Homo sapiens: one gene and its partners. The protein of the gene in region 7 purifies or fractionates together with the protein of the main gene of each other region. This does not show direct contact. Each region holds a gene or a part of one and is shown on either strand. Other genes may lie near its edges.

Region 1 (4,160 bases), on a different chromosome or scaffold from region 7:
TGACTTAAGCACAGTTTGCGACTAGTTATTTTTGATTAGCTTATGGAAGTTTTTTTGACTTTGAATTAAAATGCAAGTGTCTGTGGAATACATTTCAAATGGATTATTGGGAATAAAAATTAGTGTACTCCATGTAGTGGTTAACTATTGTAATATCTTTTAAATTTTATTTAGCTGTTAAATGTTTCAAGCTCTAGTTTATATACTTGCTATCCATATTCATTGTGCTACCAGATGACATTTGAACTGTTTAATACAGAGTTAAGATTAAGCAAATCATTTGAAATTGTTACAACCATATGTGACTACAGTTTTGTTGCTGTTCTTTTTAATTCTCCTTATTTATCAACACTTGAGTGTTTCTTTTCTGTGAAACAACTTGTGAGAGGTGCTATTCCTTTCTCTTCAGAGGCATTTCTGAAAATTTACTGAGTCTTCACATATAATAGTGTTCTTGGAATTTGTATAGTTAAACAAATTTAAGGTTAGCATGAAGACAGTTATATTATGAAGTCTTTCTGACAGGAATGTCCAGTCAGGGTTCAAGACAAGCTGCACCTTATGCAAAATAACGAGGTGAGGTATATATATGGTGGGCCTCCGAAGTCATTGAACCTGGTACAAATGGGTGCTTCTCCAAAGAGGTCTTACATGACAGTAGCAATAGAAAATTATATAAACTTGAAATAAGCTTTGTCAAATATTATGCAGAAGATGTGCATTGCCATGCCTTGCAAGTAATAGGGTTTTTTTTCTTCTTTTTTGAACTGGTACTTTAATATACCTAATTACATCCATTTGAGTTAGTATTAAGTTTTAATTTCTCAGAAATAAAGTAGTGAAAATTGGTAGCAGTTTTGTTTTTCCCATTCTTGAGAATATTACAGTGATAAACAAGGCTTGATAGGTTTGTAAAATACTATTGCTATTTGAATTAAAAAATTTCACTATTGACTTTCCATATTCTATTGTAAATAAGTTGGGGAATTAGTGTGTCAAGGGGGTGTGGTAACAAATGGTAATGTAATTTTCAAATTGCTATTGCAGCACCAAACCACAGAATCAATACTCTGTCTTTATAACCACATTTGCATATAGGGATAATAATTTATTTCTTATAACTTAAGATAACTAAAATGAAGGGCCAGGCGGGGTGGCTCACACCTGTAATCCCAGCACTTTCGGAGACCGAGGCAGGCAGATCACAAGGTCAGCAGTTCGAGACCAGCCTGGCCAGTATGGTGAAACCCTATCTCTACTAAAAATACAAAAATTAGTAGGGCGTGTTGGCGGGTGCCTGTAGTCCCAGCTACTCGGGAGGCTGAGGCAGGACAATCACTTGAACTCAGGAGGTGGAGGTTGCGGTGAGCTGAGATTGCACCACTGCACTCCAGCCTGGCGACAGAGCAAGACTTTGTCTCAAAAATAAATAAATAAATAAATAAATAAATAAATAAATAAATAAATATGAGATGGCTGTTGTGAAGAGAAGGAAGTCAGTTTTTTCTCAGTATAATTGTAAACTTTAAAAAAAATTAAATCATCTTCCACTTAATCCCCGAGACTTCCCATAATGTTTAGTAATACGGACATGTGCAAAGAATTAAATCGTATAATTAAACAAAATTTTGTCAAGTTAACTTTGCTTCTCAAATAAGGAAGTTATATAATTAAACACATTTGCTTGTACCTAATGAGACGTTAGCATCAACATGACTGTATATCATTTCCAGAATTTAATTCAATTAGTTATTGGCTGAGGGATGAAATAGAGATGAAACTAAATCCTGGCCTCAAACTAGTTTTGTACCTTATTTTCCAGCAATTTGGTTTTTTTATATCTAGATTTTATCTTTACTATTTTCCCTCATCTTACCCATTCTTAGTCTCCATACACACCTATTAACTTTAATTTCCTTTTCTGAGAATTTTGAAAGCCCTATAGTTTATGATCTTTTTTCCCTCTTTGCCTTGTGAATTTTATATTTGTGAGTTTTTTCCAAATTTCTACCTGTCAGCTCACTTCTTTAGGCAAGGTGTAAGGTTTTTGAGCCCCCTTATTTCATTTTTTATTTTTTTAAGAGACAGGGATTCACCCTGTCACCCAGACTGGAGTGCAGCGACAGGATCATAGCTCACCACAGCCTTGAACTCTGAGGCTCAAGGGAGCTTCCCATCTTATGCTCCCAAGTAACTACGACTACAAACTTGTCACTAGGACTACAGGCATATGGCTAATTTTTTAATTTAGTAGAGACAGGTTCTTACTGTGTTACCCAGGCTGGTCTCCCACCTCCTGGGCGCAAGCAATCCTCCTGCCTTAGCCTGCCAAAGTGCTGGAATTACAGGCATAAGCCACTGCACCCAGCCTATTTCATAAATAGTGGATTGCACAGCATGTTTAAATCATGTTTGCTTTACTAAAGTTTTTATCTACAACTCCCTATAACAACTTCATCTGCAAAAGAAATTAGGTAGAGAAAATAAACTACATTTGTTTTTATTCTTGACCATTCTCGAGAGGGAATAACTTGATATTGTCTGATCTAAGCGTTTAAAATAGTGAATTTGACTTGTCACAACATTAGTTTGATGAAAGACAAATATAAATTACTTTTGTGGGTTAGTTGTACAATTAACTTTGCTAACCTGTCCTATAAGGCAGAGGTCCCCAACCCTTAGGAGCTGGGCCACACAGCAGGAGGTGTGCAGTGGACCGGTGAACATCACCACCTGAGCTCTGCCTCCTGTCAGATCAGCGGTGGCATTAGATTCTCATAGGATTGCAAACCTTACTGTGAACTGCGCATGCAAGGGATCTGGGTTGCGTGCTTCTTATGAGAATCTAATGCCTGATGATCTGAGGTAGAACAGTTTCATCCCATAACCATCCTCCTCACCGCCTGCACCATCTGGGGAAAAATTATTTTCCACCAAACAGGTCCCTGGTGCCAAAAAGGTTGGGGACTGCTGCTCTTAGGACAGAAAGAAAGAAGTTCCATAACTAGAGTAAAATATCACCTTACAGTATGAGGTAGCTTAACTGTGGATTTACTTTGTTACCTTGCCCCTCAGTGGGGAGAGAAGCTCTGGAATTTAAAAAAAAAAAAAAAAAAAGTCTTACTGTTGTGAAGTCAAAATTCTTTGTACGTGTATGCAACATGTATACAAAACAATAGCTAAAGTGAGCATTAGTCTGTCTTTTTTTTTTTTTTTTTTTTTTTTTTGAGATGAAGTCTTGCTCTGTCACCCAGGCTGGAGTGCAGTGGCGCAATCTCGGCCTACTGCAACCTCCACCTCCCAGGTTCAAGTGATTCTCCTTCCTCAGCCCCCCCAAGTAGCTGGGACTATAGTCACGAGCCATCATGCCAGCTAATTTTTGTATTTTTAGTAGAGACAGGATTTTGCCATATTGGCCAGGGTGGTCTTGAACTCCCAACCTCAAGTGATCTGCCCACCTCAGCCTCCCAAAGTGCTGGGATTACAGGCGTGAGCCACCATGCCCAGCCTAGGCCTTCATTTTAGTGAGCCCTTATTTTATTTTATTTTATTTTATTTTATTTTATTTTATTTTATTTTATTTTATTTTATTTTATTTTACTTAGAGTCTCACTCTGTCGCCCAGGGTGGAGTGCAGTGGTGCAGTCTCGGCTCACTGCAACCTCCGCCTTCTGAGCTCAAGCAATTCTCCTGCCTTAGCCTCCCTAGTAGCTAGGATTACAGGCATGAGCCACCGCACCCAGTGGGTTCTCATTTTAAAAACGTTCTTGGGAAAGATGCTTCCTTCATACAGAACTACTGAGTATCTGTTTGTTTTTTACTGGGAACAACCCAAATGTCCTTCGCTGCGTGAATTATTGAACTGTGATACATCCATACCATGGAATACTATGCTGCCTTAAAAAAGGAACAAACTGCAGTCACACCTTGTTTAACATTAGGGATAAATTCTGAGAAATGTGTCATTAGAGAGTTTTGTTGTGCCAACATCATGGAGTGTGCTTACACAAAACTACATGGTATATAGCCTTATAGATATCTAAGTTATATGATATGTATGGCCTGTTGCTCCTGGGCTACAAACCTATACAGTATGCTACTATACTAAATACTATAGACAATTCTAACACCATGGTTAAGTATCTGTATATGTAAATAAA
Region 2 (4,160 bases), on a different chromosome or scaffold from region 7:
GGTTATTACCAGGCAAGTGAGACACACTCGTGCTGCTTGAATATCTTCTCCTGGCCCTAACTGTCTACTTCCCAGAGTCTTGATAAGTAAAAGTTTAATTTTTAAAAATCATCAGTTTATTTGAGGTATCACTGTAAAAGTTTCAAGCAGCTTCCTTTACACCTTAAAGGATTCCCATTTCAATAGGAAAAGACAGGAAAAGAACCAGCTATAATTTGCTTTATTTCACACATTTGGATGTGCCATGAGTTAAATCATGTTTATACAAATATTATATACAGTAATAGCTCAATACAATATGGTAAACTTAGACATCAACATTAATAATACAAGAAAAATATACAAAAGCCAAAGTTTAAAAAAAAACCTGAGTACTATATAATCATTTTTGCAGTAATTACTGTTCAAAAATATCTAAGACGACTAATATGAATTTACACTTTTACTGCTCAATCACTAAATTTGAACTGACGAAAGTATTTTATAAATGTAAAATAAAACTGTGAGTTTTAAAAATCAACTGTCTTTACAGCATGAAGTTTAAACTGACCAAAGGACAAAGAACTGCCTCGTTTTCCCAGCAACCAGCCAACCTTAAGCATCTCCCTTGCTTTAAGGCAAGAAGAGGGCAGGACGGAAGCTGGCAAGGAGCAGCATGTCCCACTGTGGTCTTGGTGAGTGGGAGCACATAGGAAATTTTTCTCATTTTTCTATCTCCTTTACCAATTTCCCCAACTAACATGGAAAGCAGAACACTACCTGTCCTTACCTGTCCCAATTAAAACCAATACTACAAATATGGTTTCTAAACATGCATACTTATGGGCTTACAGAATTCAAAAAATTATAAGATAATCATCAAAATTTAACAGTCCAGTTTTAACTTACAAGAACAATTAACAGTAAAATTATACATTGTGAGATCCACTCTCTAACACCTAATATATTTCTTATTTTGAAAACAGTAATTGGAGCTAGTGTCTTATTTATAATAATCAGACTTAAAAATGAAGTCCTGGCTGGGCATGGTGGTTCACACTTGTAATCCCAGCACTTTGGGAAGCTAGAGTGGGAGGATTGCTTGAGCACAGGAGTTTGAGACCAGCCTGGGCAGCACAGCGAGACCCTGTCTCTACAAAAATCAAACAATTAGCTAGGCATGGTGGCACACGCCTGTGGTCCTAGCTACTCGGAGGCTGAGGTGGGAAGATCACTTCAGCCAGGAAGGTTGGGACTGCAGTGAGCTATGATCGTGCCACTCTGGCTACTGCCCTTCAGCCTGGGAGACAGACTGAGACTCTCTGCCCCCTCAAAACCCTCAAGTCCTGTGATTTTGCTCCTTCCTCCAAGGTATTCACAATTTGGATCTAGAGGCTGATATTCTTTAAGACCTTCACTCCCAGAACCTTCCCTCTTGAAACTGCACTGCCACACAAACTCCAGAGCCTGCCTGCTTTCTCCTGCGTGGTGTCAATCACACCTGAAGCTCCTCAGGCCCATGCCCCTCCACCCCTGCCATCGATCCACGTGCCACCCCCCTGCCTGCTGCAGGCACCTGAGGCCTGGCAGAGGTTAGCCTAGTGATATAGTAGGTCAGGATGCTGAGAGCAAGGGTGGGGATACTGCGTTTCTATAATCTCCAGCTTAAGCTTGAAATGCATTTTCCCATTAAAAACAACATACAAAGGATATTACGCTCCTTACAAGGGCTAATATTTTCACTGATATATTGTGTGGCATGGGCTTTTGCAGACTGGTCTGAAAAACCAACTGCTTTCATGATATAGGGGAACATGTTTTACAGGTATCTTTTAGATTGCTGCATCGTAAGTCTTTCATGATGAAGAAGAAAAATAAAACAACTAAAATTTGAATTAAAAAGAAATAAAAAGGCAAATTTGACCATGTTATAAATGACAGGTACCTTTCTTATTTCTGTATCATGTGCTATCCATCGAATTACTGCTTCAAAGACATATCTTTCATTGCCAACGTTTAACTTCTCAAGAGAAATCACTTCTTTAAGCTTTTGAGGACTCAGCTCTAAGAATTCTTCCGTGCTGCTGACGTCTCGGAAATGAGTCTCCAGGTATTCTGTGGCAAGGTAATGAACGTGATGGAGGCAGTAATGTAGTGCAAAGTCACGGATACCAATACAGTTCTCAGCAGCAATGCAGCCTTCCAAAAACTCACAGCACAGGGTTTTAAGGTCCGTCAGTAGCAGCAGGTCAGCTGCCTGAACAACATCTTGGATTGTATCTTCATTTAGCCTGATCTAAAAAAGTAGCATAATTATCTTATATTTGAATGTGTACATTTAAAACCCAAACCACTAACCTATTAATTGGGGCCACATGAAATTTCCATTTATTTTAGATCAAAGATAATCGAATATTGGCAATTTCATATGGTTTAACCCAGCATTTTTTTTTTTTTTTCCAAGAGTTGGAAGGCACCAACATAAGCAAATGTGTGCTTGGTTAACTTTTCCCAGCTCTGCCCTTGCTGTACCAATGTCAACCACCAATAACCCTTTTAGGGTGAACTGTCCATGTTGTTCACTTCTGTAATTCAGAGAAAAACCTTAATGACTCAAATGCTTGGGAAATGGAAAGTTCTACATTCTATGGTAAAGTCAACATGATTAAGTACCAGCATCAGAACTGATGAAAATCTTGCCTCCCCACCTATGAAGTTCACTCTTCCGCTAAATGGCATGCCAACCTGAATGCTAACCCCTTGAAGGGAGAGGGGTTTCCAGTGTTTCAGAAGCCTCATTCCGCATCCCAAAACACTGTACGCAGTGCAATTTGGTACACAGACAGATACACTTAGGTCTCAAAACTACTTTTTGGAATAAATCCCTAATACAAGGGTGTTTTTTTTTTCTCATTATGAACATCTACTTTTCCTTAATTTTCTTCAATTTTCTGACTAATGCTTCTTCCTCCACTGACTTCACAGTGCTCCAAAGCATCAGGAAAGAAACAGTTCTCTAAAATATTGCCACAGTCCTAAGTGGACGACCCCAAAGCATGGGCACTTCACCCACATTCGCAAATGCAAGGGAGACTTCATGAGGAGTATAGCAAGAAACATTTTTACATTTTACACTTTTTGTACCACAGATTTTTAAAAAAGTATAATTGCCAATCATCTTAGAAACTGAGCAACAAAAATGTGGAAAGTAGTATGGTGAGTAAGCCACAAGTAGGGGAAAATGTTCCATTTATATGACATTATATTTAGCCACAAGACAGCAGGCAGCTGTAGACTCTTCAAATATAGGCACGTGAAAAAAACACTCAACTGCATTTCAATAAAACAAAACTGCCAATTCAGGAGTTTGTTATAACTTACATTCCAACTATCGTTTTTTTTTTTTTTTGAGACGGAGTCTCGCTCTGTCGCCCACGCTGGAGTGCAGTGGCGCAATCTCGGCTCACTGCAGGCTCCGCCCCCTGGGGTTCACGCCATTCTCCTGCCTCAGCCTCCCGAGTAGCCGGGACTACAGGCGCCCGCCACCTCGCCCGGCTAATTTTTTGTATTTTTAGTAGAGACGGGGTTTCACCGTGTTAGCCAGGATGGTCTCGATCTCCTGACCTCGTGATCCACCCGCCTCGGCCTCCCAAAGTGCTGGGATTACAGGCGTGAGCCACCGCGCCCGGCCCCAACTATCGTTTTAAATTTAAATTGGGAACAAATCACAGAACTCAATCTGTAAATAATGTTTCAACTTTCAAATCCAAGCCTGAACATGAATAGGCTCTTACTGGCTTATAACTCATTATACTAATAACTGCTGCTGGATTGACTTTACAAGGTGGAGGAGAGGTTGGTCTTAGCCCTGGTTATGTGATGCTACAGAGCATCTCTGGGCTGTCCCCAGATTAACTTAAATTCATTTACTTTTAACAATCATACACGTACACACCCACCCACTAGTGCTGAGAGAAGAGAGAAAGCATGAAATCAAACCAAAACCTTCAAAAAGGATGAGAATCACTGCGTTTAACTCTGGACAGAATGAATATATTTAGATAAAGAAAGCAATACATTCAGAATACTTAGAAAATATGTAAGACAAACAGCCCCTACAGAAAGGAAAACAAGAGGGATAAAGAAAGAATAAAGGAGAGAGTAGGGAACAAGATCTCAGA
Region 3 (4,865 bases), on a different chromosome or scaffold from region 7:
TTTAAAAAGTCAATATTGCTTTAAAAATGAGTCCTAGCTAACTAGTATTGCTACAGTCAATACTAGTGCGAATGCATGTAAACAGGAATGAATTGTATAATAATAAGATAACATGTGTCTCATGGTTTATTTTCAACTTAGTCACTTGTGGTTTTACAGTTAAACTATCCTGCTGCTTTAAATTTAGAGACTTCATTTCTACTCTAATATTCCCTCTTTTAACACTCTGAGGATGTTAACTATTATTGTTAAATGTTTTAATCTTATATAACCAAGCGGGTAAGAGCGTGGACTCTAGAGCTAAACTGTTTAGGTCCTAATCCCACCTCCCCAATTATTAACTATGTGACCCTGGGTAAGAGTCCTCTCCCCTCTCTCCCTCAATTCTCTCATCTTTAAACTAGACATAATAGTCTCTATTCCTCTGATGGTTGTATTACATGGGTTAGTATTTGTAAAACCCTTACAACAGTACCTAGCACATTGTAAGTGCTATATTAGATCAGTAGGAAAGTTAGAAAAAAACTAAAAACAACTTCACTTTTTTTTTTCACTAATGTTAAAAAAAAAAAATGAAAGGGGAAAAAGCCAGCTCTGCCCTTCTTGGAAGCTCCCACTGGACCTATAATTCCACAGTCCCAACTCCAAGAGAGTTGTTGGGTGCTTGTTCATTCAATAATTTGAGTGCCTACCATATACTAAAACTCACCATGAATCAGACAAAGCCCCTGCCCTCAAAGGGCTTACACTTGGATTAGAAATCAGAACTCCACCACTTTTTTACAGATAAGAACACTGAGTTCAGAGTATGGCTCTGAGTTCAGGGGTGGCTCACACCTGTAATCCCAGCACTTTGGGAGGCCGAGGCGGGCAGATCACCTGAGATCAGGAGTTCAAGACCAGCCTGGCCAAGATGGTGAAACCCCGTGTCTACTAAAAATACAAAAATTAGCCGGGCGTGGTGGTGGACGCCTGTAATCCCAGCTACTCAGGAGGCTGAGGCAGGAAAACCGCTTGAACCGGGGAGGCAGAAGTTGCAGTGAGCCGAGATCACGCCACTGCACTCCAGCCTGGGCGACAGAGCGAGACTCCATCTCACACTCACACACACACACACACACACACACACACGAGAACACTGACTCCAGAGAAGTTATGCCTTGCTTGCTCAAGGTCACTAGAAGCTAGGTCTTCCTGCAGTTCTCAGTTCGGGTGCCATATTCTCACCTTCTATTTGAAAGACTCTACCTAGCTTTCATGACCTTTCCTTCTTTGCACGCACCACCACCCCCTGCCCAAACCAGGAGCCTAGGTTTCAGAAAAGAAAACAGTGAACCCCAAAGATAAAGTCACATGCTGGGCGTTTTGAACCTTCCCCTGCAAGAAAATGAAAGGTTATTTTTTCTTCCCGGCGTTAACCTTTCCTGTGCTGTGCCGGAAAAGTTGAGGACTTTTTACATTTTATTATTATTATTATTGTAGAGATCAGGGGTCTCACTATGACGCCCAGGCTGGTCTTGAACTCCAGGCTTCAAGCGATCCTCCCACCTCGGCCTCCCAAAGTGCTGGGATTTGAGGCGTGAGCCATCGCGTCCCGTCCGTGGATGTTTTTTTTAAAAGGTTGAGTAGCTTCACTCGGGACCGCAAAGGTGGAGTCCCCGCCCCCTGGTGCAGCAGCGAAGACAAGCGGAGCCACCTGTCAGAGGGCTGTGGGCGGGGGCGCCCGGGCCGTGAGGGCCTTGGAACCGGAGGGTGAGTGCAGTTGAGCGCACGCTCAGAGCAGACCGCTAGCAGGAGGCAGGATGTGATAGTCTAAGACCCTGGAAGCTGACGGCCAGAGGGAGGGAAGGGTGGTCACAGAGGAGAGGCAAAGCAACGGGAGGTGGAGGATCCTGGAGGTGTCTGCAAGGAGAATACACAGCAGCGAGGGGCTGCAGAAGCGGACCCAGCGACTTCTGCGCTGACGCGGGGCGGGCGGGAGAGAGGAAGAGAGGGGAGCGCGGTGGCGCTGCGAGCTGGCCCCGCCGGGGAAGGGGCTGCCATGTCCCGTGAGCGGCCCCCGGGCACCGACATTCCCCGCAACCTGAGCTTCATCGCCGCGCTAACGGAGCGCGCCTACTACCGTAGCCAGCGGCCCAGCCTCGAGGAGGAGCCGGAGGAGGAGCCAGGCGAGGGCGGGACGCGGTTCGGGGCCCGATCCCGCGCTCACGCACCGAGTCGGGGCCGCCGGGCCCGATCTGCACCAGCCGGAGGCGGCGGGGCCCGGGCGCCCCGCAGCCGTAGCCCAGACACCCGCAAGAGAGTGCGTTTCGCCGACGCACTGGGGTTGGAGCTGGCTGTCGTGCGCCGCTTCCGTCCCGGTGAGCTGCCCCGGGTGCCCCGCCACGTGCAGATCCAATTGCAGAGGGACGCCCTCCGCCACTTCGCGCCCTGCCAGCCCCGCGCCCGCGGCCTCCAGGTAGGCGGCGGGGGCACCTCCCCTCCTGGGGACCTCCTCCAGTCGGCCGCAGCGGGCTTGTGGGAGTGGATTTGCCAAAGAGCACCCATCTCCATCCCATCCCTGGGCTTGCGCCTGCCCATCCCTTTTGGGGACCCCATCTGCGAGTGGCTCTAGGCCACCCTGGCAGCTGGGCCGCACTCTGCCGGCCTGGACGCCGGGGTCGGCCTCTGATTGGTCCAGTGCCTTGCTCTGACACCGCCCCCTGTCTCTCCCCTCTCTCCGCCCTGGGCTCCCTCCTCCCGCTTCTTCTTTCCCCCAGGAGGCGCGCGCCGCCCTGGAGCCGGCCAGCGAGCCCGGCTTCGCCGCCCGCTTGCTGACGCAGCGCATCTGCCTGGAACGCGCCGAGGCGGGCCCGCTGGGCGTGGCCGGGAGCGCGCGCGTGGTGGACCTGGCCTACGAGAAGCGCGTGAGCGTGCGCTGGAGCGCCGACGGCTGGCGGAGCCAACGCGAGGCGCCAGCCGCCTACGCCGGTCCGGCCCCGCCCCCGCCGCGCGCCGACCGCTTCGCCTTCCGCCTGCCCGCGCCGCCGATTGGGGGCGCCCTGCTCTTCGCCTTGCGCTACCGTGTGACAGGTCACGAGTTCTGGGACAACAACGGCGGCCGTGACTATGCTCTACGTGGGCCCGAGCACCCGGGCAGTGGCGGAGCTCCGGAGCCGCAGGGCTGGATCCACTTTATCTGAGACGAGGCGCCTGCGGCCGACGGCGGAAAACACCAAAGGCACCCGGGGGCGGGGCGACCCGATGTGGCGGGGAGGAGTAGGAGAGACCAGGATTGGCGGGAGCGGTCCAAGGGAGTCAAGCCGGGGAGGGCGAAAAGGGTGGGGAAATCAGGGGCGTGGGGGCGTGGGGGCGTGGGGGCGGGGGGAGTGAGCGGAACCAAAGAAGCTCCGGGAGATCCGGGTGTTAAAAGCTGGTTGGATGTGAGTGGAAGGAACTCAGAATATAGGAGGAAGGAGACCCGAAACGGCACCGGAGGGATTATAAAAAAAGGAAAAGAATGGGGATGATGGTGGCCTTCCCTTCAGTGAGTGGGCTCTGGGAGAAAGGGAGGAGGTCCATCAGGCCTAGGCGGTTGAAGAAGGTTAAGAACCTTTTGGAGATGGAGGAGGTATGATGTGAAGTAGCCCACCCAGTCGAAGGCATTTACATTGCTGGCGCATTCCCTCTTCTTACCGGCCTTTTCCACCTCAGATCCCCCTGTCCTACCCATCCTAGCTTTAACTCAGCCATAATTGCCTTGCTTAATCCCAGGAACCTGGCCACTGCTCCTTGGTCCTTGGCATTATGACGGGATTCCCTTGTCACCTCTGACAGTTCCTGGCTGCGGTGTCCGCGGACTGGCTGGGGAGTGATGACAGGTAGCTATCAGAGCTCCAGCCTCCAGGCAGCTTTAGGGATTAAAACGGAGGCCAAAGCAACTCCAGACCTGTTTTTATAGCCAAATACTGAGCCTCAGGGGTTGTACACTCAGGGGCTTCCAGGAAAATGCCAGCCTTACTTTTCTGGGGTGCCTTTTAATAACCTCCAAGCACTTTGTGGACTGTTTGTCGAGGGACGGTGAATCAGAAGAATCACTATTCTGATTTCCTTTGTCTCCGAAGAGGAAGTCCCTGACTAGCTATATAACTTTGGGCGAGTTACCTCTCACTTCTTTGTGCCCCAGTGTTCTCCTTGGGAAACTGGATTTAGGTTAGATGACCTTTTAAGGCTCCTTGTATGATATTTTGTGATCTGTACATGGCAGAGTATAGATTAGGAGCCAAATTTTCCAACCTAGTGCTATGGTTCAGAATACATAGCACCCCAAGCGTCTGGCTGGAGCCGAGGATGGGTCCTCCAGTTTTTGGCACAGATGTTCCGGAGCCCAGGAAGCATCCCATAACCAACCTTCAGCCCCACCGCCACCCCCAGCGTATTCCAGAGCCGCTTCCAAACCACAGCCTATCCTCTGCTCCATTTCACTCTTGTCCTCACAGACTTTCAGCCTCCATGCTCTGAGACAACTGTGGGTAGGTACATCTCTGTTGGTGGAAATGATGCTTAAGAACCCCAAAGATTAAAGGAAACAATGTTAAGGGCTTTTGTGAGGATAAAAGATAATGGGTATATGGAATAGAAACATTTCAAATGAAGAATCAAAGCATTTCAATCAATCCACTTGGTTGTAAAAAAAAAAAAAAAAAAAAAACAAAAACAAAAAAACACCAAAGCAACTTGAATAGTAAATGGCACCAGAAGATGGCAGTCTGCTCCATAACCAGAGCAAGTGCAGTGGGAAAGCTGGACTCTCATACCCACTCACATTCATGCCTTATATAAGCCTCTCCTCCTGGTTAACCTTAACAGGGGAGTGATTCCTCTGC
Region 4 (4,160 bases), on a different chromosome or scaffold from region 7:
GCCATTCTGCGTGTGTTCCCCAGCTGGGCAGGGCTGGAAGCCTTACGTATGAAGCATGGAGAAGCAGCCATTGTCCCCACTATGGGCAGAGGGGGGACCCGGCTGGCCCCTTGGGTCAGACTGGAGCCAACACCGCCAGCCACCCCCTCTGGCCTGCTGGCAATGCCACAGGTGCCCAAGAAGATGGAGGATCCCTGTGCCAGGAGCCAACCTGGTCTTCCCGAGGGTCAGTGCCCCAGTGAAGACAGAAGCGAGAGAATAAAGTTCCCTGTAGGTCCTCTGTCACCTTTGGGTTGTGTTTTTCAATTGTTGACATTTCAGAGGGGACCCTCCAGAAGCCCAGCCGGCTTCCCCCAAGGACTCCCCCTTCGCTGGGAGTGGATTTCCACACGTGCCTTTGATTTCGGACAGATTGGGCCTCACAGCCACCGATTCAGCTGCCAGGGTCCCTGGACTGGGGGTTGGTGTTTTCTATAGAGGAGGAAAGGCCCTCCCTCACCCTGCTCCCCACCCAGGCAGGGCAGCATGGGACCCAGTGTCTCAGTGCCTTCAAAACCCACCCCCACCCCTACCCTACCCCACCACACCCCATCCCAGAGGCCTTGCCTGGGCAACCCTAAGCCCCTGTCCCTCGCCATACACTGATGCCTGGCAGCTAGAGCAAATGGCTCGTGTTCTTTGTCGAAGGCCTGTGGTGAGATTGTTTTGTTTCCTTTTGTTTTGTGAGTTTGTTTAAAATTGAAATTAGTTATTTTCTTCTGCTGGACAGTATTAAATAGAGCAGGATGTTGAGTTAATCTGCTAGATTGCAGTACTAATGGTAGTGGTTTAGTGTCTTCATGTTAATATTATTTGTACTTATTTGAACAATAATGATAAAGAAGTGGTTCATTATTTTTTAATTAATGCACTTTAAATAAGGTAGAATGGAAAAAACCCAGAGAGCAAAGTGCATTACTTAAAGATGCAGTATATACTTTTCTCATTTTTAAACAGCACATATTTATTAAGAGAAAAAAAGTAATTTATGACTATTTAAAATAAAATTTAAAAGTAGAGTGACTGTCAGGTAAAGAACCTTCAATGTAGCTATCTTCCAGGGGGAGGGCCCTGCAGCCTCGCTCCTCAGATGTCTGCACTGAGCCAGTTCAGTCACTAGTGCGCCAGCCAGGCCAGGAGGGAGTGCAGAGCATGTCTGCCAAGCACAGAGCATCTCAGTTGGACTGGACCACAGTGCTCCCGAGAGCCTGCCTTTCCTGCCCTTCCCCACCACCTGCACTGCCCCCCACATTCTCCCAGCCCCCCCCAAGGACCCCCTCTCCTTGACCCCCAGTGCTGTAAGTAATAGAGTCATTAAAATGCAGGACTGAAAGAGACCTCAGAGGTCTCTATCCCATCCCTTCCTGTTACTGCGGCCCAAGGACAGGAAACAACTTTTCCAAAATCCCACAGCTAGTTAATGACAGATCTCCCCACTACATTAATCCCGTGCTCCTCCTCACTGCCATTATAGTTTATTGTGTGGTCATGTTTACATTGTGACATCCAGCCCCAAGGATGGCTGGGAGTTGCTCAGGCATCCAGGAAAAGTGGGGAATGCTGCCATCTGGTGACAGCATGTAGATTTGGGCAGTGAACAGGGATTGCCATGCCCCAGTCTTCGCACCTCGCCCCCTCACCCCCTAACTCACAGCACAAACCCTGCAAACCCAAAGAGAATATTAATACTTGAAGCAAGAAGGGTGCATGCCAGTCCTTCTCCGACATGGCCAGGGGGTACCAGGCCTTGTGCGCCTGGCCTCCTAGCCCTAGCCAGGGCGAGAGGGCCTTTCCCTTGAGCTACTGAGCTGCTTTGTGATGCTGAAGGATACTGCCGGCAGCAGGCAGAGGAGGGAGGGGGCCTAGGGCTCTGACCCATCTGGAGGAAAACCAGATCGGACTAAAAAAGGAAAAAGAAAAACAAAATCTCCGCAGTGTCCAAACCTAGTTTCCCATGAGTTGCGACTGAAAATGTGAAACGACACTGTATTGCTGTATACTGCAACTTTAACCATAATGAGCCCTTCTGAGGTCATTATTGAGGTTCATATAATGCCCGAAGATGCAGCATTTGGTGCTTTGTTTTCCTTTCCGTTTCAAGACCTTTTTCTTTTATTGCAAGGGGAAAAAAATGTCATCTCCCCCCACCTCATCCCTCTTTGTGACAGCAGACCTGGCTGTGTTGCCCCTCTCCTCCTCACTATTCTCACCAGGCCATGGGACTTTGGGGGCAGTGAGAGAGAGCTGGAAAGGGGCAACCCTGAGCAGCAGGTGTGCCCCATGCCCTGTGGGTTTCCCCTATGTCCAATGACTGTAGACGGGCTGTCTTGCCAGGCCTCAGCCCCGTCTACCCTAAGCCTGGCCCCAAAGGTTTCTCTTTCTTCCTCCTTGATTTTCCATCTTGACGAAGGCATTATATAGAATCATTTTAATCACTTTCAGATGTTAGAGCAGCGTATTTTACAGGCATTTATATCCATTGCTTTCCTCAGCAAGGCATGTTACTACTTTTATCATCTAAGGAAAAAAGACAAGGGAATTCCAGTCAGGCATTATTTTCCTATTACTAGTGTTTGCAGAATAGGTGTAGGACTATTTAAGTTTAGACCTTGGTTTGGTAGTTCTTGTTTTTAATAAGGGGAAAAAGATAAAATAACCCCTATTTTTCCTGTTATTGTATTTAACTAATATATTATTTCTTTAAGGTTACTCACTTCCCCTACCCCTCCAAATACCTTGCATTCTCAATCAAAAATGGAAACAATCTGAGAGACAGGAAAAGTGCAATATTACCAAGATGGATGCCAGGGCTCATTGGGGACAATGGAGGGAATACCAGTGGCGCTCAGAGAGCAAGAGGCAGGGAGCGGGGTGCTGAAGGAATCCTAGCTGTGGAACAGGTGGGTGGGTTGGTGGAGTTTGATCTTGTGGCGTTCTCCTCTCCCCCTTCTTTGGGAAGATGATAGGGGTCCCTGCCAGATCCACCCAGAAGAAAGGGATTCAGGCATGGGGCCCTTGACCTCTAGGCCCCAGTCCCTGGAGCAGAGGCAGGCCCTCGGGAGCTGTTCCTTGTTTTGATTTCTGTTGTGGTGCAGCCAGCTGCTCAGAGAGACCTGGCCTAAAAATGACTCCCAGCAGCCCTCTCTCACCCCAGTGTCCTGATATTTGGGCTGTGATCCTTCTGGTGTATGTTTGAATCTTTCTAAAACTGGGTGCCCTCAGTTCAGTTTCTAGGCAGGAAGCCTAGAAGTCACCAGATCTTTTTGGGGGATGTGAGAACCTTGAGCCGCGCACACCCTGGTGAGACACCAATTCCCACAAGCCTGCAGCAGGGCCTGGGGCTGAGCCTGGGCTGCCCATTCATCTCAGCGACTTCAGCCTGAGAAGTGAGCCCTGCCTGGGCTCCACACCCAGAGAGTCCATACAAATTCTGCTCCGGGAAGAGTCGGGGGGTCTATTCAAGTTTCTCTGCAGACAAAACTTCCCACAACAGGTACCAATCTGGCCTCCTTCCTCAGCACCGGTAGAGAAAGCAACAGAATGGGAAGTTTCCTCTGGGTTGGAGCCTCAGAGCTCTGCCCCTCAAGGTGACAGGGACGTCCCTGTGGCTTGTTCCCTCCACCTCCAGTACTGTATGCTTGCTACTTCAACCCCCTATTTGGTGAATTTCTGCACAGACACAGATCTCTGTGCCTGGAATGGGACTGTGCCCTGTGCGGGTCTCTCCCTTGGCGTATATCCATCTAGATATTTAGTCTTTGAGAATCTCAAAGCAGAGCTCTCTGGGAAGAGAACTGTCCACATTGCTAAATAATTAAGATTCCCTCACTTTTTTGAGGGCCATGTGTTGTGAGAGAGAGAGAGAGAGAGAGAGTGTGTGTGTGTGTGTGTGTGTGTGTGTGTCTGTGTATGCAAGTGTTGGTAACTTCCCACTTGAACTAAATAACATGGGGTTAGAGAAAAAAAAATACCAGGCAAGCTGTCTCCATTGAACAAGTCCTTGGCAATGGGCAGGTCCCAAGGGACTCACAGCTTCTGGCAGCAAGTGTGTCATTCACACACATCATTCTGGCTGGAGAGTGCAATGTGTCATTTTTTTTTCTTTTTGTAATTATTTTATT
Region 5 (4,160 bases), on a different chromosome or scaffold from region 7:
GTGACAATTTGCCATATTATCTCATAAGCAATTCATTTTTGGGGGGCAAGTTAGGCTAGTTAAAGCTAATAGCTGTACCAAACTCTAATTTGACTTATAGGACACACAGACTTCTAAAAATTATGTAAGCATTTATTATTTAGATGGCCATGGGGCATATATTGAAGACAGTAAGTAGTTCTTTGGCTCTGAAAATGGTGCAGGCTGAAGTCCTCTGGAGGCATCTTCATTTGTACTTGTGAACCTCACAGGGAGGTATTTTAATCTGTTTTAGTTAGAGCAACTCTGCAGCCTGGGTTTCTTAGGACCGTACCAATTTCCCATGTCCTTCTTCATCCGTGAGTGCTAACATTTGGTTTTTAAAATATTGTGCAAATGAGATCTTTCAACACTTAGAAATTCCCCCTTGAGAACAGGCATAATACATGATCTGGTTACTAAGTGGTTGCTTTGGAATTTTCATTAATAATCCAACAGTCCTCATGTTGGCTGAGACTCTGAGGAAGACTCTAGGTCTCTGAGAAAATGTCAGAAATTGCTTGACTGCTGAGGCTTGATTGTGGGATGTAAAAACCAGGTACCAACAAAGGAATATGATACAGCTCCCAAAGTACATGAATTGTTACTGAGAGATTGGTGAACATTACTGGAGCACTGAGAACTGCCTCTTAAGGTCAGGAAAACTGTTTTCCATTCAACCCAACCTGCAGGAGGAACCAAGCCAGAGCAGCAGCTGAGAGCTGAAAGAGTGAGACAAGAGGATGAACCAAAAAGACAATGATAATATTACTTTTTTTTTTCATTTCATGCATATTTCCCATGCAGCTGCTGCCTTCCTTTGAGATTGGTGCATGGACGGAAGACGATGTGGTAAGCTCTTTGTATTCATGCCTTATTTGACTTGAGCAGGTATTTCATAAATTTTTCCCTAAGTTTTTAGGGGAAGAGATTGGGCCTTAGGAAAGTCTAACTAGGAGAGGTTGACAAATTCTTTTCTCACTCTGTCTCCCAGGCTGGAGTGCAGTGGTGCGATCTCAGCTCACTGCAACCTCCACCTCCTGAGGTTCAAGCGATTCTCCTGCCTCAGCCTCCTGAGTAGCTAAGACTATAGGTTCCCACCAGCATGCCTGGCTAATTTTTGTATTTTTAGTAGAGATGGCGTTTCACCATGTTGGCCAGGCTGGTCTCGAACTCCTGACCTCAAGTGACGTGCCCGCCTCAGCCTCCCAAAGTGCTGGGATTATAGGTGTGAGCCACTGTGCCTGGCCTTTTTTTCTGTTTTTAATGCAATAATGATTGAAAATAAAGCCTCAAGAGTAAAGCAAGTATCTCTGCAAATCTTCTAAGTGGGTTCTACCTTCCTAAATTACTCTGAAACTATTCCAGAATACAATAACAAATACCCATGAGGAAATTAAAGTGGCAGCTCGGGAAAACAAATGAACATACTTGAAAAAAAAGTGATATTAAATCTTTTTACAAGAACAGGGATGGCCTCGAGCCATGGTAGAGGAGGATCTGGTCAAGGCAGTGCTGGGCTGGTACACCGCTGAACCGGCTTTCCTTCCACCTCAGGCCTGTTTGAAAGTGAGGCATCATATTTGCCAGCCTTATTCTGGCCTCCCAAGTGGGAATAGACACAAGCACGCCCAGACATTCTCTGTAGCTTTAGCCAGAGAAGCCCTATGTTTTTGAGAGGCTGCACTCAGACTGTTGAAGTCCAAAAGAAGTCCTGCACTCTGCATTCTTGATAGAAACCCTGAGAAACAATCCAACTTAGTCTGTTACATCACCATATCTATTTTTTTAGTGACAAAACAGGTATGAAAATTCCTGATGTGAAAACTCAGAGACTAGGTTGGGCACGGTGGCCTGTAATCCCAGCACTTTGGGAGGCTGAGGCAGGAGGATCACTTGAGGTCAGGAGTTCGAGACCAGCCTGGCCAACATGGTGAAACCCCATCTCTACTAAAAATACAAAAATCAGCCAGGTGTGGTGGCACATGCCTATAATCCCAGCTACTTGGGAGACTGAGGCAAGAGAATCGCTTGAATATGGAAGGTGGAGGTTGCAGTGAGCTGAGATCACACCACTGTATTCCAGCCTGGGCAACAGAGCAAGGCTTCATCTCAAAAAAAAAATTTTTTTTAAGTTCTATAAAACTCAGGGACTTATGCTATCCAGGTCTATTTAACAAGCTCAGGGTATCACTAAATGAAAATGAAAAAAACAAAAGATGTAATGCCAGCCTTAGTGGGTTTGGGCTCCAGCCCAGGGAACAGACCAGGTGCCACAAAGTGCAGACTAGCTACTGGAAACTCCTCAAAAGATCTGTTTACCTAGCTCAACCTGGTTTTGGGCCCAGGCATTTCCCTCTCTGCCCTTTGTATTCTTTTGAAGTGCACCTGCTTTCAACATTAGCTAACCTCTTTGGCTTCCGTAGGGTAAGGAAACTTGGCACCAGTTGCCACTATTTCTTCCCATTCACTGAGCCCCAGTGAGTCTCACTTTCCTGCCAGCCTTGCTTAACAAGGAAAGAGGACTCAGGGTCTCCTTTATTCACAAGCCTGGATATCATCTCTTTATCCCTAGCTGCAGAGTTTCCCCTGTCATTTGAAAAGAAATTTTTGAAAAATCACTGAGTTCTAACAGCTATTTTTAGTCTTTGCTCTGAGGCTGAGTGGCTTCCAGGCCACTTAAATAAAATTCCAGAGTTGAGGGCTCCCCAGAGAATCACAGGGACTGAGTCTGGCCTCCCATCCTTCTCTCCTCACCAAGGTACTGTGAGAGGCCACCAGTAAACCCAGACCCTGTGATATACAGGGACTAAGGGTCACTGGGTCCAATCTCCTCATTCTACATAGGAAGCTCCACACTTTGACTTGGCTGGGGCCACGTGGCTACTTCATGACCTGGCCTAGAACAAAAGATTCCTTCTGTCTGTTGCTCTGTCCACTGCTGTGTGGTCCCTGGAACTCATACAATTCCTGAGTAAACTGGTGCCCCTCAGCAATCCAGGGGACCACTGGCACATAAATGGAAAAATCACTATAAGTAAGAACCCTCTTGAAAGGATTTAAAAATATCTCCCAAAGAAGGAGGAAAACCAAGGGGCTTTTAACTGTCCAAGACCCCCGAAGAGAGGGATATCTCCCATTTGAAAGCTTGAGGTTTTAAAACTACAAAGAGAAAGTCTTCTATTTTACCTTTGTGGTTGAGCCAGGAATTAAAGTTATTTTGATCTATTGAAAACTCTATGTTTACTGTGAAGACTGGCCACTGACCATGTGTGAATCTTCAAAACCGTATGTGTCCTCTCTTTCACAGTATTGTTGGGTTCAGCAGCTCGTCAGAAAAGGCAAGTGGAATAAGTTACCTTCTTCAATCATGGAGTTAACTTTGTTTTGGATGTGATTTCATCTAATTTTATTCTGCTTTCTAATCACTTCCTTCAGGTGACTCTTCAGCAGAGATGAGTGTATATGCAAGCTTGTTTAAAGAAAACAACATTACAGGGAAGCGGCTGCTGCTGCTGGAGGAAGAAGACCTGAAAGACATGGGCATTGTCTCCAAGGGGCATATCATTCACTTCAAGGTACCTGAGAAAGGGACAACATTCCATCAGCAAACCCTTTTTTTGTTTGTTTGGTTTTTTTTGAGGCAGAGTCTTGCTCTGTTGCCCAGGCTGGAGTGCAAAGGCACAATCTTGGCTCGTTGCACCCTCCGCCTCCTGGGTTCAAGTGATTCTCCTGCCTCAGCCTCCCAAGTAGCTGGGATTACAGAAGCGTGCCACCACACCCAGCTAATTTTTGTATTTTTAGTAGAGATGGGGCTTCACCATGTTTTCCAGGCTGGTCTCCAACTCCTGACCTCAAATGATCCACCTGCCTCAGCCTCCCAAAGTGCTGGGATTACAGGCGTGAGCCACCAGGCCTGGCCTCCATCAACAAATCTTTATTGAGCACCTACTATGCAGCAGATCACGTGTTAGGGGCTGCAGATGGAAACAGTGCTATGCTGGTCATTACTGTGCTGAAATGCTTACACAAGTTGATAATCAGCAGCTGCCCCCAGGCACCCCTATTCCTTCCTCATAATCCAAACAGCAAAAAGGTGCATACATGGTATAGTAGGACTCACAGGGAGATAACCTGAATAT
Region 6 (4,136 bases), on a different chromosome or scaffold from region 7:
TGTTGCCCAGGCTGGAGGTACAGTCTTGGCTCACTGCAGCCTCCGCCTCCTGAGTAGCTGGGATTACAGGCATGTGCCACCACGCCCGGCTCATTACTGTTTTTTTTGTAGTGACGAGGTTTCACCATATTGGCCAGGCTGGTCTCGAACTCCTGATGACCTCAAGTGATCCGCCCACCTTGGCCTCCCAAAGTGGTGGGATTACAGGTGTGAGCCACCGCGCCCGGCCTCCCCTGCTTTCATGTTTGCTTACCCAGTGTCTCAGTCTGTGCCAGCAGCACCACTGTCTGTTATGGACAAAGCACAGAAGCGGGGATGCGAGGGGAGGTAGAGGGACCGCCAGCCTGTCAATGCTTAACTGGCTGTTGCTGACAGATACAGAAGGATTTGTGGGGTACAGAGGAGTTCTGCTTTAAGTCACCTAACTTACTTGAAAGGTCTCCCAAGCAGCCAGTTTCTCTTGATAGTGAATGGGTTGGGCAAGCATACTGCGCTTACCTGATTGTTTTCATCCTGGTTGTGTTACCTGCCTTCTGGCAGGCTACATCATTGTTCCCAGTCGTTATTTTATTTGTGTTAAGACTGTTTGTTGGCCAGGCGCAGTGGTTCACGCCTGTAATGCCAGCACTGGGAGGCCGAGGCAGGTGGATCACGAGGTCAGGAGATCGAGACCATCCTGGCTATCATGGTGAAACCCCATCTCTACTAAAAATAAAAATAAAAAAATTAGCCGGGCATGGTGGCGGGGGCCTGTAGTCCCAGCTACTCAGGAGGCTGAGGCAGGAGAATGGCATGAACCTGGGAGGCGGAGCTTGCAGTGAGCTGAGATTGCGCCACTGCACTCCAGCCTGGGCGACAGAGCGAGACTCCATTTCAAGAAAAATTAAAAAACTGTTTGTTGCCTGCTTGTTTTAATGTTCTGGCTTGAGGCAGCGAGCCCTTGACTATGCCACATTGCCAGGATTTTGCAGGTTAGATTGTACTACAGCACTGCCTTTGGCTTGCCAGACTCTGGAGTCCCCACATTTTCATCCTGTTCTCAGGAAAACACTTTGACCCACTTGAAGCTCTGAGCTACTGCTTCACAGCTTCCTGGGGTCAGTCTCCAGCCAAAACCATAGATATCCCAACTGCAGCCAAACCACGGCTCTGGGCGAAGGAACGATTAGGTTTACTCTAGGTTTCCACACCCTGATGCTCCTGCCTTTACTTTGACACCTCTGACTGCCAGGTTTTCACAGACCTGTTGACAGTGACTCAAGATCTGGAATGTAATGGATGGTTTGGCAACAGTGTTTGCTTGAGCAGTTTAAAATCTGGCCAGGGAGACTCAATGTGAGCAAGAAAATGATAGAATACCAAGTTTTCTGGAGGTCAGAGGGAGCTGAGTTGAGTGTTACCGAGAATGCTGTGGGGTTTGAGATGAGAAAAATAGCTTGCTAATTTAAAAGACGGATTATTTTTCCCTAAAGACCTTGACTTATGTAAATGTATATTATCCATAATTTTAAAAATCCACTTATGGCTGGGCACAGAAGCTCACACCTGTAATCCCAGCACTTTGGGAGGCTGAGGCAGGAGGATCAGTTGAGTCCAGGAGTTCGAGACCAGCCTGGGCAACATAGTGAAACCCTGTATCTACAAAACATAGAAAAACTAGTTGGGTGTGGTGGTGTGTACCTGTAGTTCCAGCTACTAGGGAGGTAGGAAGATCACCTGAGCCCATGGAGATTGAGGCTGTGGTGAGCTGTGAAGGCACCACAGCACTCTGGCCTGGGCAAGAGTGGGACTCTCTCAAAAAAAAAAAAAAAAAAAAATCCACATATCCAGCCTTCCAAGTCAGTCTTTAATAATGTGCACGGGCCAGGCACAGTGGCTCACACCCGTAATCCCAACACTTTGGAATATTAGGGTGGGAGCATCACTTGAGGCCAGGAATTTGAGACCAGCCTGGGCAACATAGTGAGACTGCCCCCCCCATCTCTACAAAAAATAAAAATCAAAAATAATACTGTGGGCAAACTTTACTTAGATTTTATTCAGAGTAGTGCCTGTTTATTTTTCATCTGTGCTACCTGTGCCGGCATTCCATATGCATTTGATTTAGTCTTTAAAGTACCCCGGTAAAATAGGTCTTTTGTCTGCATTTTTCAGATGGGAAGACTGAGGTTTTGTTTATTTATTTTTATTTATTTATTTTTTGAGACGGAGTCTCGCTCTGTTGCCTAGGCTGGAGTGCGATGGCACAATCTTGGCTCACTACAACCTCCGCTTCCTGGGTTCAAGCGATTCTCCTGCCTCAGCCTCCTGAGTAGCTAGGATTACAGGCGCCCACAACCGCACCCGGCTAATTTTTTGTATCTTTAGTAGAGACAGGGTTTCACTATGTTGTCCAAGCTGGTTTCGAATTCCTGACCTCAGGTGATCCACCCGCCTCTGCCTCCCAAAATGTTGGGATTACAGGCGTGAGCCACCACGCCCAGCCTATTTATTTATTTTTTTAGAATCAAGATCTTGCTATGTTGCCCAGGCTGAACTCGAACTCCTGGGCTCAAGCAATCCTGCCTCCCAAGCCAAGCAGCTGGTACTGCAAGCATGTGCCACCGTGCCTGGCTCCTGAAGACTGAGGTTGGTTTAGATTAATGAGTTGCCCAAATTCAGACAGTTCTTAAGTGGCAAAGTTAGGATTCCAACCCAGGTCAACATAACTAAAGCCCAAACCCCATCTCACCCCTCTAGGCCATCAAGTATTGGCTGGGTGCGGTGGTTTATGTCTGTAATCCCAGCACTTTGGGAGGCGGAGGCGGGAGGACTGTTTGAGCTCAGGAGTTTGAGACCAGCCTGGGCAACATAACAAGACCCTGTCTCTACAAAAATATATAAATTAGCCGGGTGTACTGGCTCACACCTGTAGCTACTTGGGAGGCTGAGGTGGGAGGATCGCTTGAGCCTGGGAGGTCAAGGCTGCGGTGACCTGTGATTGCACCACCAGGAGACCCTGTCTTAAAAATGTATATATAAAAATAAAAAGAACATCAGACATCACCATCACCTCGCTTAGAATCCATGGGGCCTTCTCCTCAAATTCAATCTTCCCAGGCATTTCATGAACTTGCGTCTAGTTTCTGTTCCCTCTCAAATTGCCCAGGCTGTCCTGTGAGTGACAGCAGCTATTTCGTGGGCCTCCTCTGGAATCATGAGAAGTCACCCAAACAATCTCAGTTTTCTAGCTCACTCCGTCTTGACATTTCTACACTGTCATCCTTGGTTTTCTTGGAAATTAATTTGCTTTTCTTCATTGTCTTTCTTTGGAGCTGCTTTCCTTTTGTTGGTTACTATTTTATTTTTAGCTTCTCACACCATACCGACATATGTTGGTTATTCTTTTAGACATGTTTTTTGTTGTTGTTGTCACCTGGAACTTTTGTATCTTGAATAAATTTGGGGATCAAATACATTTTTTCTCCACCAGTCTTATTTATACCTTTCTATATTCAGAGCTTCAAATTTGGTTTGGTTTGAAATTGTTCTCCCCCCAACCTTTTTTTTTTTTTTTTTGAGATGGAGTTTTGCTCTTGTCGCCCAGGCTAGAGTGCAGTGGCATGATCTCCGCTCGCTGCAACCTCCGCCTCCCGGGTTCAAGCGATTCTCCGGCCTCAGCTTCCCAAGTAGCTGGGATTACAGGCATGTGCCACCATGCCCGACCAATATTTGTATTTTTAGTAGAGATGGGGTTTTGGCATGTTAGCCAGGCTGGTCTTGAACTCCTGACCTCAAGTGATCCGCCCACCTCAGCCTCCCAAAGTATTGGGATTACAGGCATGAGCCACCATGCCTGGCCTTTTTTTTTTTTTTTTTTTTTTAACTTTTATTTATTTTCGAGAAGGAATCTCACTCTGTCGCCCAGGCTGGAGTACAGTGGTGCCATCACAGCTTATTACAGCCTCAACCTCCCAGGCTCAAGTGATCCTCCCACCTCAGCTTCCTGAGCAGCTGAGACTGCAGGTGCATGCCACCATGCCCAGCTAATTTTTTGTAGTTTTCTAGAGGCAGGGTTTTGTCATGCTGCCCAGGGTGATCTGGAACTTCGGAGCTCAAGCAATCCATCCATGTCTGCCTCCCAAAATGCTGGGATT
Region 7 (4,160 bases):
TCCTTCTAGCACCTGAATGCTATTCGGGGGTAGACTGTGGTGAGAAGCAAGTTATCTGCGAAAGCCCACAGCATTCTGTGAACAAATGATTTGATGATGTTTTCCAGTGAACTTATGTGGCTGTCTAACATTGTTACATCACAGCACACATTTTCCGAGAATCCTTGAGACCCAAGAGAAAGCATCTGCTCATAAAATCTTTCCACTTTGCCATATGCACTGGGTTTGGGGGTGGGGGATGAGGATGAGGAGGAGCTTCAACTCTTTACACCACTCACAGGGAACTCTTCCCGGGTGCTCTAACTCAGGAGGGTGTGTTGTCAGATCCTTTTCTATGCCTTGCAGTGTTCAGAATTTGCAAAGAATTTTACCATCTGCTCTGTGTGCTGATGTCACACAGAGCAGAGTATATAAGACTGTTCTTATCCCTCAAACTTTGCCTTTTAAGGAGAGGCACAGTTGTCCAATTTTAGGGATAAAACGTCTCCTTTTTTTTTTTCTGCTCTTGCTCTCTTGTCTTTTTCCTGGAGAAAGGCTAGAATCTGTTTCAAAGGATGGTTTTAAAGACCCTTGACTCTGGGCTTGAGGGTCCAGTTGAGCAGGCATCTTTGTTCTTTCATATGTTGGCTTCGTTTCCTGACTCTGGAGGTGCTGTGAGCGTTTAAGAACCACAGGCTTGAGCTGCAGGTGGCTGTTTGCCTCTCTGCCTTAAACAGAGCCGTTCTTGTTTTTCCTCTCCTTTCTCTCTCTCTCTTCTAACCTGCCTGTGAATGCCTGTTACTCTGTGTTGGCATTTCCAGTCACAGCCCCCACCTCTGGCCTTTCTCTCTCTCTTCTAACCTGCCTGTGAATGCCTGTTACTCTCTGTTGGCATTTCCAGTCACAGCCCCCACCTCTGGCCACTCCTTCTGTTGTTCTCTGCTGGTCATTTTTTATTTTTCCTTCTCTTTGCCTTTGTCCCTTTTTTATGTTTTTGTCAATGTTTCTCATCTCTTGCTTAAATGAGTTCTTCTTTTAATCGACATTTTCTTAGTCTGTTCAGGTTGCTATAACAAAATGTAATAAACGAGGTCACTTACAAACAACAGAAATTGATCTCTTACAGTTCTGGAGGCTGGGAAGTCCAAGATAAAAGTGTTGGGAGATTCCGTGTTGGGCGAGGGCCTGCTTTCTGGTTCACAAAAAGCAGCTTCTTGCTGTGTCCTCTCATAGTGGAAGGGAAGCACTCTAGTCTTTTCAGCTCCTTATAAGGGCACGAATCCCATCAATGAGGGCTCCATTTATGACTTAATCATCTCCCAAAGGTGCTGCATCCTAATACCGTCACATAGAGGACTGGGTTTTAGCATAGGAATTTAGGAGAGACACAACCATTCTGACTTTAGCCACCATCCAATCAGAGTGTTCCTTTTCCTTTGTTCTCAATCGCTGAGAAACAAGCCACAGCCTGTCAGGGGTAATGTGGAGGCAGTTACCTCTAACTCAGGGCAGTGCAAGAACAGGACTTTCAAGTGTGAAGGCTGATTCTGAGCCCCAGTGAGCTCTGTGACAATGGTGCTAGAAGGTACTGGTGTTCGTATCTTCTTCCAGAGGAAACTGTCCCTTGGGGCTCTGTTGAAATGCAGGCACAAAGGCACGGCGGCCTTCTTGGGTCACATGGAGAGATCAAAAAGCATCTCTTCTCTGTCAGACTCCCCTCACGGCTGTTGTTATCATTGGCAGGACTCTCCTTCAGCAACTCCAGAAGCTTCAGACTTTGGTGATGGGCAAGGTTTCTCGAACCTGCAAGTTAGCTGGCACGCAGACTGGCACCTGCCTCATGGTGAGCTTCCCAGCAGGGTAGCACAGTGACCGCCCCTGGCCTGGCCCCTGTCTCCCCTCTCCCTCCACTTGCCAAGGCCAAGTGCTGTGCTGTAGGAGAAACCACATGGAGGAACTCCACTCTGAGGCTGTTCCTCGGTGAGGCACTCTGGTGATGTGACTGGTGGGTGCAGTCCACTGGCCTGAAGAGGAGAGTCTGTGTCCCTGGGTATAAAGCTGTGCTGTCCAGAGGCTGAAGTCCACAGCCCCTCGTGTTCTCTCTCCCCTCTTTCTCTCCCACAGGTTGTGGTGCTGTGCTTTGCCGTTGCATTCGGCAGCTTCTTTCAAGGCTACGGGCCCTATCCTTCTGCCACCAAGATGGCTCTGCCCAGCCAGCATTCCCTGCAGGAGCCCTACACAGCCTCCGTGGGTAAGACAGCATGTGGCAAGTTGGGCAGGGTCTTGTTTTATTTCCCTAGAGCTGGGTTTCTCAGTCTTCCAAAAGGAATCTTCTGTGAAAGTCCAATGTTTAAAAAGTGGTAAAAGTGGAGCTTCTCCCTTTGAAGAGGCAAGTGGGGGTTCCCCTGGGGCCCCTCATCCACTGGACTGCGGCATCACTGGGAATTCTCCAGAGCTTGACAGAGCACAGTTTGCAAACTGCTGTTCTAGACTGTGTTCCCTGATCCATTCTGACATCTAATTTTTGAGTTCTGATAAGGGAGAGGGAAGCAGATGAGGGAAAGAGTCTGTCGCTTTCTGTGACGTTTTAAGAGAACTGCTGTGTTTCTGCCTCCACTGAGTGGAATTGTATGAGTAATGTAATGCAATGTATATAGTAAGGGCTTGTAAAGTGAAATTAAATAAACAGCAAGGTCAGGGCCGGGCGTGGTGGCTCACGCCTGTAACCCCAGCACTTTGGGAGGCCGAGGCGGGCAGATCACGAGGTCAGGAGATTGAGACTATCCTGGCTAACACTGTGAAACCCCATCGCCACTAAAAAATACAAAAAAATTAGCCGGGCGTGGTGGCAGGTACCTGTAGTCCCAGCTACTGGGGAGGCTGAGGCAGGAGAATATTGTGAACCTGGGAGGCGGAGTTTGCAGTGAGCCGAGATCGCACCACTGCACTCCAGCCTAGACGACAGAGCGAGACTCCATCAAAAAAAAAAAAAAAAAGAATCAGCAAGGTGAGGAGTTCAAGACCAGCCTGGCCAATATGCTGAAACCCCGTCTCTACTAAAAATACAAAAATTAGCTGGGCATGGTGGTGCATGCACCTATAGTCCCAGCTACTTGGGAGGCTGAGGCAGGAGAGTGGCGTGAACCTGGGAGGCGGAGGTTGCAGTGAGCCGAGATCGTGCCACTGCACCCCAGCCTGGGCGGCAGAGCAAGACTCCATCTCAAACAAACAAACAAAAAGAATCAGCCTGCCTTCCAAAACCTTATGCCCAAGATCTAGAGAATATGGGGACTCCGGTGTCAGATAAGAAGCGTATGGTGTTCTCACCTAGAAATAAAGGGATGGTGAGTAAGGAATACACACACAAATTCACACCTACACCTATAGGAATGAGCATGGGGTTAGGCAGTACAGTAGTCCCCCCTTATCTGAGGTTTTGTATTCTAAGCTTTCAGTTACCTGTAGCCAATGAACATACCTGCAGTTACCTTAAAATAGCTGAATACACTATAGTAAGAAACACTACCTGCAGCCAATAAAAATACCTGCAGTTATCTGAAAATAGCTGAGTACACCACCATAAGAAATTTTGAGAGAGAGAGGCCACATTCATGTAACTTTTATTAGAAGATATGGTTAGAATTGTTCTATTTTATTATTATTGTTAATTTCTTACTGGGCCTAATTTCTAAATCAAACTTTATCATAAGTACATATGTATAGGAAAAGGCATATGAACCCTACATGCTATATGCCCATATATAAACCCTGTATGGTTTTTCCCATACATATATACCTTATACCATATATATAGGGTTCAGTTCTATCTTCGGTTTCAGCCGTCCACTGGGGGTCTTGAAATGTATTCCCCATGGATAAGGGAGGACTACTGTACTGGATTTGGGATAGGGAAAATTTTGCCATCTTGAAACGTCTGTGGTCTTCACCAGGCAGGTGTGTCTCTGCCAGGTATGACAGAAGTGCTAGCATTCCAATTAAATAATTTCAGTGGCCTGTTGAGAATTTTTCCCCCCAAGGAACTATCTCTCTAAATTTAATTGGAAGCATAGTTTCTATGTCATGGAAAATTGCTACAGAGCCATCTAGCTGTGTGACTGTCCTACAAAACAAAGGAGATTGTCTCTATCCTTTGATTTATGGCTTTGGCTTTGTGTCTCCTC

Evidence for each region.
Region 1: the proteins of CREB3L2 (region 7) and R3HDM1 purify together in Homo sapiens (co-immunoprecipitation; one large-scale study listed by IntAct). This does not show direct contact.
Region 2: the proteins of CREB3L2 (region 7) and GAN purify together in Homo sapiens (co-immunoprecipitation; one large-scale study listed by IntAct). This does not show direct contact.
Region 3: the proteins of CREB3L2 (region 7) and PPP1R3E purify together in Homo sapiens (co-immunoprecipitation; one large-scale study listed by IntAct). This does not show direct contact.
Region 4: the proteins of CREB3L2 (region 7) and SH3PXD2A purify together in Homo sapiens (co-immunoprecipitation; one large-scale study listed by IntAct). This does not show direct contact.
Region 5: the proteins of CREB3L2 (region 7) and MAP3K20 purify together in Homo sapiens (co-immunoprecipitation; one large-scale study listed by IntAct). This does not show direct contact.
Region 6: the proteins of CREB3L2 (region 7) and KIF1C purify together in Homo sapiens (co-immunoprecipitation; one large-scale study listed by IntAct). This does not show direct contact.

The regions. Positions count from the first base shown.
Region 1 is NC_000002.12:135,534,077-135,538,236, forward strand, and holds part of R3HDM1 (R3H domain-containing protein 1), read left to right. Parts: intron 1-4,160.
Region 2 is NC_000016.10:81,352,520-81,356,679, reverse strand, and holds part of GAN (gigaxonin), read right to left. Parts: intron 2,276-4,160; coding exon 1,925-2,275; intron 1-1,924. UniProt on the Homo sapiens protein: Probable cytoskeletal component that directly or indirectly plays an important role in neurofilament architecture.
Region 3 is NC_000014.9:23,299,753-23,304,617, reverse strand, and holds the start of PPP1R3E (protein phosphatase 1 regulatory subunit 3E), read left to right. Parts: upstream 1-1,758; 5' UTR 1,759-2,041; coding exon 2,042-2,458; intron 2,459-2,759; coding exon 2,760-3,182; 3' UTR 3,183-3,320; intron 3,321-3,753; 3' UTR 3,754-3,860; intron 3,861-4,865. UniProt on the Homo sapiens protein: Acts as a glycogen-targeting subunit for PP1. PP1 is involved in glycogen metabolism and contributes to the activation of glycogen synthase leading to an increase in glycogen synthesis.
Region 4 is NC_000010.11:103,596,417-103,600,576, reverse strand, and holds part of SH3PXD2A (SH3 and PX domain-containing protein 2A), read left to right. Parts: 3' UTR 1-4,160. UniProt on the Homo sapiens protein: Adapter protein involved in invadopodia and podosome formation, extracellular matrix degradation and invasiveness of some cancer cells. Binds matrix metalloproteinases (ADAMs), NADPH oxidases (NOXs) and phosphoinositides.
Region 5 is NC_000002.12:173,228,864-173,233,023, forward strand, and holds part of MAP3K20 (mitogen-activated protein kinase kinase kinase 20), read left to right. Parts: intron 1-825; coding exon 826-870; intron 871-3,328; coding exon 3,329-3,359; intron 3,360-3,456; coding exon 3,457-3,596; intron 3,597-4,160. UniProt on the Homo sapiens protein: Stress-activated component of a protein kinase signal transduction cascade that promotes programmed cell death in response to various stress, such as ribosomal stress, osmotic shock and ionizing radiation.
Region 6 is NC_000017.11:5,024,945-5,029,080, forward strand, and holds the end of KIF1C (kinesin-like protein KIF1C), read left to right. Parts: 3' UTR 1-3,457; downstream 3,458-4,136. UniProt on the Homo sapiens protein: Motor required for the retrograde transport of Golgi vesicles to the endoplasmic reticulum. Has a microtubule plus end-directed motility.
Region 7 is NC_000007.14:137,883,065-137,887,224, reverse strand, and holds part of CREB3L2 (cyclic AMP-responsive element-binding protein 3-like protein 2), read left to right. Parts: intron 1-1,722; coding exon 1,723-1,822; intron 1,823-2,103; coding exon 2,104-2,230; intron 2,231-4,160. UniProt on the Homo sapiens protein: Transcription factor involved in unfolded protein response (UPR).